Homo sapiens: one gene and its partner. The protein of the gene in region 2 purifies or fractionates together with the protein of the main gene of each other region. This does not show direct contact. Each region holds a gene or a part of one and is shown on either strand. Other genes may lie near its edges.

Region 1 (5,234 bases), on a different chromosome or scaffold from region 2:
CCTCACCAGTGAGCTGATAGCCCCCTCCCTCACCACAGGACCTGAATTGGGTGGCGAGTTCCCTGTGCAGGACCTGAAGACTGGTGAGGGTGGCCTGCTGCAGGTGACCCTGGAAGGGATCAACCTCAAATTCATGCACAATCAGGTAGGTGCGAGCGGCAGCACGAGGCTCCCTGTCGTTCCATCTGTAAGAAGGACCAATGTCCAAGCCCCCAGTACTTCCCCAGCAAGCATGAGAGAGGGCCCTCTGGAGCTAGAGGGAGAACTGGAGCAGCTGGACCCAGGAAAGAAACCCCAGGGGAGGGCACAGTGACGTTGGCGACCACCTGGCGCTGTGAAGGTGCACCAGGGAGCCCGTGGGGGAGGCTGGGCAGGAGCGAGGCCAGGTGGCCACGCTGCCCCATCCGTTGGACTCCACACAGTGTGAGTGGGAGCGTCTCACTTGGCCCTTCCCCTGCAGTGTCTCTGCCTTCCTCTATTCCCAGGATATGCTTCTGCTTGGTGGTTTTGCTTTGAGAGTCTAGACTGGCCGATCTCCTTGTGTCTTTCTGGTGTGCGTGCAGCTTGCGTGTGCGTGCGTGCGTGCCTGCGTGCTTGTGTGTAAGTAGCTTGTATCTGTCCTCTCTGGAGTGTGTTTATTTGCCTTTTTCTTCTGCGGATTCTTCTTCCTGTTCTTTTCCTTCCTCTGAGTGTTCCCACTCTGTCCCCTGCTCCACAGGCCCCATTCCCTTTCTTTTGATTGGGGAGCACTTGTGGATACATCTTTCCCTCATTGTAATTCCACCATAGGAGCTGACTTTTTTTTTTCTCTCTTGGTCTTTTAACACAGTGTTACCTTTTTCTCTCAGTGGACATTCCTTAAGCTAATTCCTTTCTGAGGCCAGCGCATCATCCCAGGTCCGTTCACAGCTCTGACTCCTCACACAAGTGCCTTCCCTCCTCTTTCCCTGATGTCCGGGTTCCTCTCCCTGAGGCTCTGAGCCAGACCCAAATGTGTGAAGCCCCACAGACCCTGGCCAGGCCGCAGACCCTCAGGGGAGGTGGATGCCTGACTGACGTGGCTGTCTCCCTCCCTCCGCTAGCCGTTGTAGCTCTCTTTCAGGAACGTAGCTGGGCAGCTTTGGTTTAACAGGAAATGGCTGCGCAGGCTGCCAGCAGCCCCTTAGTATATTTTCAATTTAGGACTTAGGGCAGTAGCCAACCCCAAAGACCTTAGGACCATCCCAGAGAGGGGTCTACCTAAGTGCTTTTCTGGACCACAAAGGTGTCAGTACTTCTTGGGGAGCAGACTTCTGACCACATTTTAGCGCCGTGGCCTCTGAAGATGAGATCTTGCTGAGCAACGCCCAGGTGCTCTGCCCTGTTCCTCGTCCTGCCCTTGGCATAGCCCCACTGGGCAGCCATCCAAGCCAGTCTGTGGTTGAAGGCTTGGCCCCTAGAAGATAGACTGCAGAGAAGGGGAGGAAAGCCCGGGTTCTCAATCTCACCTCACAGTTAGTAATGAGATAGCGACCTGCCCCCTATTCTGCCACACAGTGTTCAGTTGGAGTGGAGGAGGCAGCAGACCTCCTGGTGGAGCTGTGCAGTCTGGGGTAAATGGGAAAAGCACAGGCTTCGGTGTGAGGACATGCTTGGATTTGAAGCCCAGCTTCCACGTTCATGGGCAAAGAAACTTTCTGATCCATAGTTTCCTCATGTAGAAAATGGGGGTAATACTATTTACTGTGTCACGTAGTAGGTGCAGAGATTAGAAATCGTATTTGTAAAACCCCAAGTAGGTGCTCAGCAAGTGGTAGCTGATATTATTATCACCACATACCTCTTGGGAGATCCTGGATCCTGTTTCAAGGAGGATACCAACACCTCCCACCCTGAGGACAGTCTGAGGGGAGCTTTGCGCCCGTGCCAGCCCTCTGCGCCGGAGGAGGATGCATGGAAGGGTAGAGACCTAATGGGCTGAGTGGGGACCCCTGGGGCACTGTGTCTTACAAGCACTGCCCTGGGCAGAGGGTACGGGCGGGCAGCCCAGGCCAGCAGCAGGGCCTTCGGGTTGGGTTTGACCATTCAAACTAACGCCTTCATTTCTCTCCCATGCTTTCTCCTCCGGCCAGGAGCGGAAGGTACATGCCCTTTCTGCTATCTTCGCTTCTTAGCGCTTTTGAGTTGTGTGCGTGTGGATTCTTCTGTCCTCTCTTTGGGAAATAGACTTTCTTTGTGTGGGTGGGGCTGTAGCTGGGAGAGTGTGCTGTGTGGGGCAGGGGTGGAGCCTGTGGGCCTTACCCCGGCCTCCCTCCCTCTCTTGCAGGTTTTCATAGAGCTGAATCACATTAAAAAGTGCAATACAGTTCGAGGCGTCTTTGTCCTGGAGGAATTTGGTAATTACACTATTTTGCTCTTAGGTCTGGACTCACATGGCAGTAACTCAAACCTCGGAGCTCCAGAGGAGGGTCTAGGGGCAGGGAGAAGAAGAACCTCTGTAGAGAAGTCAGGAGGAGCAGGAGTGACAAGGAAGAAAAGGGACCCCTGAGATGAGAGCCGGGATGTGGAAGGGAAAGATAGATAATGGATCGCAGAAGAGCAAATGGGGCCTCAGGTGGGTTTCGAGTTTAGAGGTGGTCCTGAAGCAGCTCAGTGAAGTAGCACCACCTCCCCGTGCTGGGCCAGCCAGTGGTCAGAAAGTTTGGGACACAGCAGACTGGCGACCCCCAAGCTCCACTATGTCCATGTCACCTGCTGCAATCTCTCTAGCAGCCCAGTGCGCTAGCCAGCCTCCCTGGCGCCGCTCTGGTCTCCACCTGGCCTCTGTGCCAGACAAAGGGGCACCGGGCGTCGCAGGCAGACTCACTTGAGGGACAGAGGAGTCTAGCGGGACAGCTGTAGCCGGAAGCTGGGAGCCAGCGCTAGGGAGTGGTGTAGTGGGTTCTCACCCTGGGGCTTTGAGTTCCTGCTGTGTTTGTGCTTCATTCTTTTGTGCCCCTCATCGCTGCTATGAAAACCTTCGTTCTCCAGCAGGTAAAGTGACCTCGGCTCGTGCTGCCTCTCCCCAGGTCTCTGCCTTGGGCCCTGCCCTGGGTGGGTAGCTCCCATCGAACCAGCTCCTCACACTGCCAGCTCGTCTCTTCCTTTCTCCCCTACCCTCTTTCTTCCTACCTTGCCTCCCCCTTCTCACCGGCTCACTGGACTTTCCTCCCCGTGTGTTCCCTTCTCTCTTCTGTCAGAGAGATACTTGGGGGAATCTTCCAACTCGGGAGAATGGCCTGGGGCTTCTTGCTCTACCTTTGATGAGTTTATTCCCTGCTGACCCTGGGTTCCCCCAAATTCTACCTCCCAGGGTCAGAAGAAGGTACGGCCAATTCTCCTCCTGCCTTTTCTGGCCCCCAGGGAGATGCCAGGCCCCTCTGCTCCCAGTCTCAAGGGGCCATGATGGTGGCTGAGCCTGGGGGGCCTACTCCTTCCTCTGGCCAAGCAGAACCCCTGCATGGCTGGAGCGGGGGGACTCTCACTCTTGCCTTCTGGGCTGTGGACATGTGTGTATTTTGCCTGATGCTCCCTGTCACCTCCCTCCCTGGGTGCTGTACTCGCCTGTCTTCTGCTGGGTGTGTTGCTCCAGAGCCCTCAGACGCTCTCCCTCACACAGGCAGGTCTGGGCTTCTCCTGCCACTCAGGGAAGGACACTGCCACATCCTGTGGGTTTATATCATGTTACCTCTTCATCCAGCCTCAAGACCCTCTGTGTAGGGGGCTGGGAATAACGGGAACTGTGTTTAACATGACCCAATTTTCAGGCTGGTGACGAGTTCACGGGTGTCTCAGCAAAGTTGGACACAAGCTAGAGAGAGCTCTCTCCTCCCAGCCAAAACCTGGGAATTCCCCACTGCAGCTCCTCAGGGGCCCTGGACAGTAGCTGTGACCAGGCTGGTGAAAGGCCCGTCCCTCCCATCCAGGGCTTTCAAAGAAGTGGGTAGAATCACGGCCATCAAGTAAACGCCACTGCGGATGACAGAGGCCTAGCTGAGGAGGCTAGGGCCATGTCCTCCCAGCTGGCAGAGTCTGGACAGAGCCTCTGGTGGCCTCTGCCCTGTCATAGCCTAAGCTGCTGCAGCCACTGTGAGAGGCCACAGAGGGGAAGGGGACCCTGACGCCGGGCGCTGCCGCCTGGGGGAGCATGGCACGATTGCTCTTAGTGTTGAACTTTCTGTTTTGTCTCTTGCCCGTCCGGTTTTAGTTCCTGAAATTAAAGAAGTGGTGAGCCACAAGTACAAGACACCAATGGTGAGTGTGCCGCTCAACCCTGATGGGCCACGGTGCGCAGGGCTCCCTGGGGGACCTTCGGACAGGAGGAGGGGAGGGCCCTCTGAGCGCACAGGGGTGAGTGGGGACCTCGTTTTGTTGCCAAAGGTTCAACTCAGGCTGAAACAGGTCTTGAGCCCTGAGAGACAGACACACACACACGGATCCCCTCTCCCATGGGGACAGCTTCCTTGCTTGGAGCTCACGTTTAGCCCAGAGGCCCATGCCCAGTGTTAGGGCAGGAGTTGCCCATTGGCAGATCCTTCACATATGGAGATGGAGGAGTCTCAGTATCGTGATCCGCCTGGTTTTCTCTCCTCTAGGCCCACGAAATCTGCTACTCCGTATTATGTCTCTTCTCGTACGTGGCTGCAGTTCATAGCAGTGAGGAAGATCTCAGAACCCCGCCCCGGCCTGTCTCTAGCTGATGGAGAGGGGCTACGCAGCTGCCCCAGCCCAGGGCACGCCCCTGGCCCCTTGCTGTTCCCAAGTGCACGATGCTGCTGTGACTGAGGAGTGGATGATGCTCGTGTGTCCTCTGCAAGCCCCCTGCTGTGGCTTGGTTGGTTACCGGTTATGTGTCCCTCTGAGTGTGTCTTGAGCGTGTCCACCTTCTCCCTCTCCACTCCCAGAAGACCAAACTGCCTTCCCCTCAGGGCTCAAGAATGTGTACAGTCTGTGGGGCCGGTGTGAACCCACTATTTTGTGTCCTTGAGACATTTGTGTTGTGGTTCCTTGTCCTTGTCCCTGGCGTTATAACTGTCCACTGCAAGAGTCTGGCTCTCCCTTCTCTGTGACCCGGCATGACTGGGCGCCTGGAGCAGTTTCACTCTGTGAGGAGTGAGGGAACCCTGGGGCTCACCCTCTCAGAGGAAGGGCACAGAGAGGAAGGGAAGAATTGGGGGGCAGCCGGAGTGAGTGGCAGCCTCCCTGCTTCCTTCTGC
Region 2 (5,234 bases):
TATGTATCAATTTATAAAAAGCAAAAGGGCCGGGTGCCGTGGCTCACGTCTGTAATCCCAGCACTTCAGGAAGCCAAGGCGGGTGGATCACGAGGTCAGGAGATCAAGACCATCCTGGCTAACACAGTGAAATTCTGTCTCTGCTAAAAATACAAAAAATTAGCTGGGCGTGGTGGCATGCAGCTACTCAGGAGGCTCAGGCAAGAGAATCGCTTGAACCCGGGAGGCAGAGGTTGCAGTGAGCCGAGTCTGAGCCACTGCACTCCAGCCTAGGTGACAGAGTTGAGACTCTGTCTCAAAAAAAAAAAAAAAAAAGTGAAAGTATTTGACAAAATCTAACATCCATTTCTGATTTAAAAACATGAAAAACCAAAAATTTCTCAGCAAATTTGAAACAGAAGGGAACTTCCTCAACCTGATAAGGGCATTTACAAAAAACCCCACAAAAAAACCCCTAAATCTAATAGCACACTTAACGGTGAAGGATTGAATTATTTCTCTCTAAAATCATGAATAACACAAAGATGTTCACTGTCACCACTTCTAGTCAACATTGCACTCAAGGTTATAACTAGTGCAGTAAGGTAAAAAGAATAAAAAAGGATTAAAAAAGAAGTAAAACTACCTTTATTTGCAGATGACGATTGTGTAAATGTACCCAGAATTTTCTTTTTATTGTCAATTATTCCCCAAATTCATCCAGTGATACAACATAATTCCAAACAAAATCACAGCAGACTTTAATGTAGAAACTGAAAAGGTGATTCTAAAATTCATATGGAAATGCAAATGTCTTCAAATAGCCAAAACAACTTTGAATAAGAACAAAGTGGTATGGCTAACACTACACAATTTCAAGGCTTACTATAAAGCTACAGTAATTAAGACAGTGTGAAAATGACATGATGATAACAGATCAACTGAACAGAAAAAAAGAGTCCAGAAATAGATCCACTTACACGTGAACAGAGATACGAAGACAATTCAATTGAAGACAGGTCAGTCTTTTCAACAAATGGTGCTGGCACAACTGGATAGCTTTTTTTTTTTTTAAAGAATTTGAATCTATAATCATGAACCATATACAAAAACTAACTCAAAATGGGACCTTTTACCTAAATGTAAAACCCAAAGCTATAAAACTGCTAGAAGAAAACATGAGAGAAAATATTTGTGACCTTAGGTGAGGCAATGGTTTCTTAGATAAGACACTAAAATCCCAATCTATAAAAGAACAAACTGACAAATTGGACATGTTCAAAATGTAAAACGTCTGCTCTTTGAAACACAGGGTTAAAGAGCATGAAAAGGTAAGCCACGGGGCATTCCTGTAGGCTATTGAGGACTTCATCAACAGGCTACACTAAATTTACTGTTAAAATGTTTCTTTCTTCAACAATAAATTAACCTTACCTTACTGTAACTTTTTTACTTTATAAACTTTTTAATCTCTAACGTTTTACCTCTTTTGTAATAACACTAAGCTGAAAATACAACACACCATACAGCTGTACAAAAATATTTTCCTTCTTTATATCCTCATTCTATAAGCTTTTTCCAATTAAAAAATTTTTGTTGGTAAACTTTCTTGTTAAAACCTAAGACACAAACACACACATTAGCCTAGGCCTACACAGGGTTGGGATCATCAATGTCACTGTCTTCCATCTCCACATCTTGCCCCACTGGAAGGTCTTCAGGGGAAATATTAATAACATACATGAACCTGTCATTTCCTGTGATGATAATGCCTTCTTCTGGATAATTCTTGAAGGACTTGCCTGAGGCTGTTTTACAGTTAACATTCTTTTTAGAAGTATAAGCAGTATACTCTAAAATAACAATAACAAGTATACTATAGTAAATACATAAACCAGTAACAAAGTCGTTTTATGATCGTTTATAAATATTATGTGATGTATGCAATGGTATGTGCTACATTGTTGTGTAACTGGCAGCCCAGGTTTGTTGTTTATACTGGCATCACCACAAACACAACGTCACTGGGCAAGAGAAACTTTTCAGGTCCATTATAATCTTATGGGACTACCATCATATATATAATAAATCACATGACTGTGTATGAATATACAAACATACACTCTCAAAACGCAGTAAGAAAGCAAATAATCCATTACAAATGGGAAAACTATATGGATGGTCACTTAGCAAAAAAAAGACATATGGATGGCAAATAAGCATATGAAAAGATGCCCTACACCACTAGTCATAAGGGAAATGCAAATTTAAGCCACAGTAAGATACCACTTAACATCTATTGGAATTGCCAAAATTTAAAAGACAGACCATAGCAAATGCTGACAAGAATGTGGAGGAAATAGAACTCTCACACACTGCTCATAGGTATGTAGAACTGTAGGTACAAGCACTTTGGAAAACAGTTGGGGCAGCTTCTTAAAAAGTAAAACACATACCTACATCTGATCCAGCCATTCCACTGGCAAGTAAATGGCTTGCCACCCAAGAGAAAAGAAACCACATGTTCATTCAAAGACTTGCATAAGAATATTAAAAACAACTTTATTTAATAGCCTCAAATTGGAAACCCACATTTCCATCACCAGGTGAATAAATGAACTATGGAATACTGCAAAATGGACACTTAGTACTCAGCAATAAAAAGAATGAACTATTGATATATACAACATGGACAAATCTCAAAAGAGAGTACTGCATGATTTATGATATACTGACATAAATTTCTAGATAATGCAAACTCATCTGTGACTACTTGGAAAAGAAAAGAAGGAAGGGATTACGAAAGGGCACCACAAAACTTATGGGGGTGATAAATTCATTATCTTGAACTTATGGTGACAGTTTCAGGGTGTGTACATATATCAACACACATCAAAGTTTACACTTCAAATATATATAGTGTGTAATACGTCGACTGTACCTCAATAAAACTGTTTTAAAAATCACTGTCATTCTGCTTCAGCTGGAAGTGAAAGACACACAGCAACCAAACTGTCAGTAAAAAAACAAAAAAAATGTACAAGACATACGGTTATTCTCTTGTAAATTTCCATATCATCTATGCTTGTCATACTAACTCATTTTGTAAGGTGAATTTTGTTTTGTTAGTCTGGCAGGTTTTATGTAGTTGCTATAAAGTATAATGAATGACTAGAGGAGTTAAAAATAATTGTTACTTTATGTCAGAATAAATATGCTATAAACTATTAAGGTATTCTCCATTCATTTATTCAATGTTTCTAGTCAGTTACTTATAGAACAGTGGGCCAAGAAAAATATGTTTTAAAAACATAAGAGCTCCACAAAACTCCTATGATTCACATCAATTGTCAGATTCAGTTCTATTTTATCATTTTGTCCTTATTGTCCCATCCATGCCCTGTATACATCCCTATCACAGCATTTAAAATACTTTATTAAACTTTCTAGTTTATATGTTTATTTCTTATAATGGTCTTAGTTTTTTCAGGTAGAAGGCATGTTTGATTAATTTCTATATCCTCAGCTCCTAGTACAGCACCTAGCATATACACCATCTTAAAGTTCCACTAAGGGACTTAAAGGAAGATCTGAATAAATAATGTAACATTGTTCATGGATGTCAAGATGTCAATTTGACTCCAATTAATCTATAAATCCAAAACAATTCATTTTTTTAAAATCCTATGAAAATTGTATAAAGTCTGTGGTCTAGTTAATAGTACTGCACCAATGTCAATGTCCTAATTTTGTCCTCATTTTGATTACACTACAGTTATAAAACAGGTCAACATTAGGGGAAGCTGAGTGGACGATTCTAAAACCTCTATGTGCAATTTTTGCAACTGCCTTTGAGTCTTCAATTATTATTAAAGACTTTTAAAAATCCCATGAACATAGCAAGTTTTCCAAAATTGCATGGAAACATAAAGGTCGAAACATAGTTGTCAACTTTAAAAAAAAAAAAAAAAAACGAAAGCGGGGCAACTAGCACTATCCGATTTTTGGACACATCACAAAGCCACAGAAGGAAAGAGAATATGATGATGACAAAAGAGCAGATTAATGAACCAATGGATTATGACAGAGAGCTCAGAAACAGACCCGTATATATAGGATAACTTGACATAAACCAGCCAAGGTTGGGTTGTCACGTGATGGGATTAAGAAAACTGGCTTGCTCTATGGAGAAAAATAGGTTCTTATCACACTTGAAACAAAGATAGAATCCAAATTAAAGACCTAAAAATGAACAGTAAAACTATGAAGCTATTATGGAAGAAAATGTAGGAGAACATCCTGGTGATTTGGGGACAGGGAAGGAGTTCTTAAGACAAGCCACACACCATAAAGCAAAACATTGGCAAGTTCTGCATTAAAAGTAAAGATTTCTGTTCAACAAAGGGCACCACAGAAAAAAACAACAGATGGGTGACACACTAGAAAACATTCGTAATGCCTAAATGGAGAATGAACACCCACAGAGTATACAAGGTACCCATGCAAATCAACATGAGAAGGACAATAAACCCAATGTTTAAAAGTAGACCACAGAAATTAGGCAATTCACAAAAAGGAAAAAAAAAAATTTTAAGTATACTGCTCACAAGCATATACAAAGATAATTAAACACTAATAATTAATGAAATTCAAATTAAAACAAAGCAATAACTATTTCACAATCTTCAGACTGGAAAAATTAGAAAGACAATACCAAATGTTGGTAAGAAAGTGGAGACGAGGTACCCTCTCCTGCACCATCATGGGAAGGCAATGTGCAATTGTCATCCTGGAAAGCAATTAGTTTGTGAAATGAGATACGCACCTACTTTATGGCGCCATCCCATCCTAGGGGCAGTCTCAGAGCAATTATGGCACAAGACTATATAAAGGGACATGAATGAGTATGTTTACCAGAGTTGTTTGTGATAGCAGGGAGTTGGAAGTTACCTAAAAGGTCTGTTAAGGAAGCTCTTTTAGATACTTTGGAATCCTATGCTGTCAGAAGCAGTGAAATGGTTGTACACACAGCAATATGAAGAGATCTTGAAACAGTATTGTGTCACCATATTAAGAAGCAGAACAAGATCTACAACATAATCCCAGTTAGGCAAATTAAACTCACACATGCATGTGTGCGCACACCCATACACAATAGTGCTATCTATTTTATAGCAACAACTAACGTGGTTGCCTACAGGGATTGTGGATGAGGCAGGAAACGGGAGTGAAAATTAGGGAGGAAGAAAATCAAC

The links. Proteins that work in one complex are often made in the same cells at the same time.
Region 1: the proteins of MTMR9 (region 2) and MADD purify together in Homo sapiens (affinity purification with mass spectrometry; one large-scale study listed by BioGRID and IntAct). This does not show direct contact.

The regions. Positions count from the first base shown.
Region 1 is NC_000011.10:47,324,433-47,329,666, forward strand, and holds part of MADD (MAP kinase-activating death domain protein), read left to right. Parts: intron 1-38; coding exon 39-145; intron 146-829; exon of another isoform or gene 830-901; intron 902-2,111; coding exon 2,112-2,120; intron 2,121-2,305; coding exon 2,306-2,375; intron 2,376-4,225; coding exon 4,226-4,272; intron 4,273-4,613; coding exon 4,614-4,718; 3' UTR 4,719-5,234. UniProt on the Homo sapiens protein: Guanyl-nucleotide exchange factor that regulates small GTPases of the Rab family. Converts GDP-bound inactive form of RAB27A and RAB27B to the GTP-bound active forms.
Region 2 is NC_000008.11:11,289,582-11,294,815, reverse strand, and holds part of MTMR9 (myotubularin-related protein 9), read right to left. Parts: intron 1-5,234. UniProt on the Homo sapiens protein: Acts as an adapter for myotubularin-related phosphatases. Increases lipid phosphatase MTMR6 catalytic activity, specifically towards phosphatidylinositol 3,5-bisphosphate and MTMR6 binding affinity for phosphorylated phosphatidylinositols.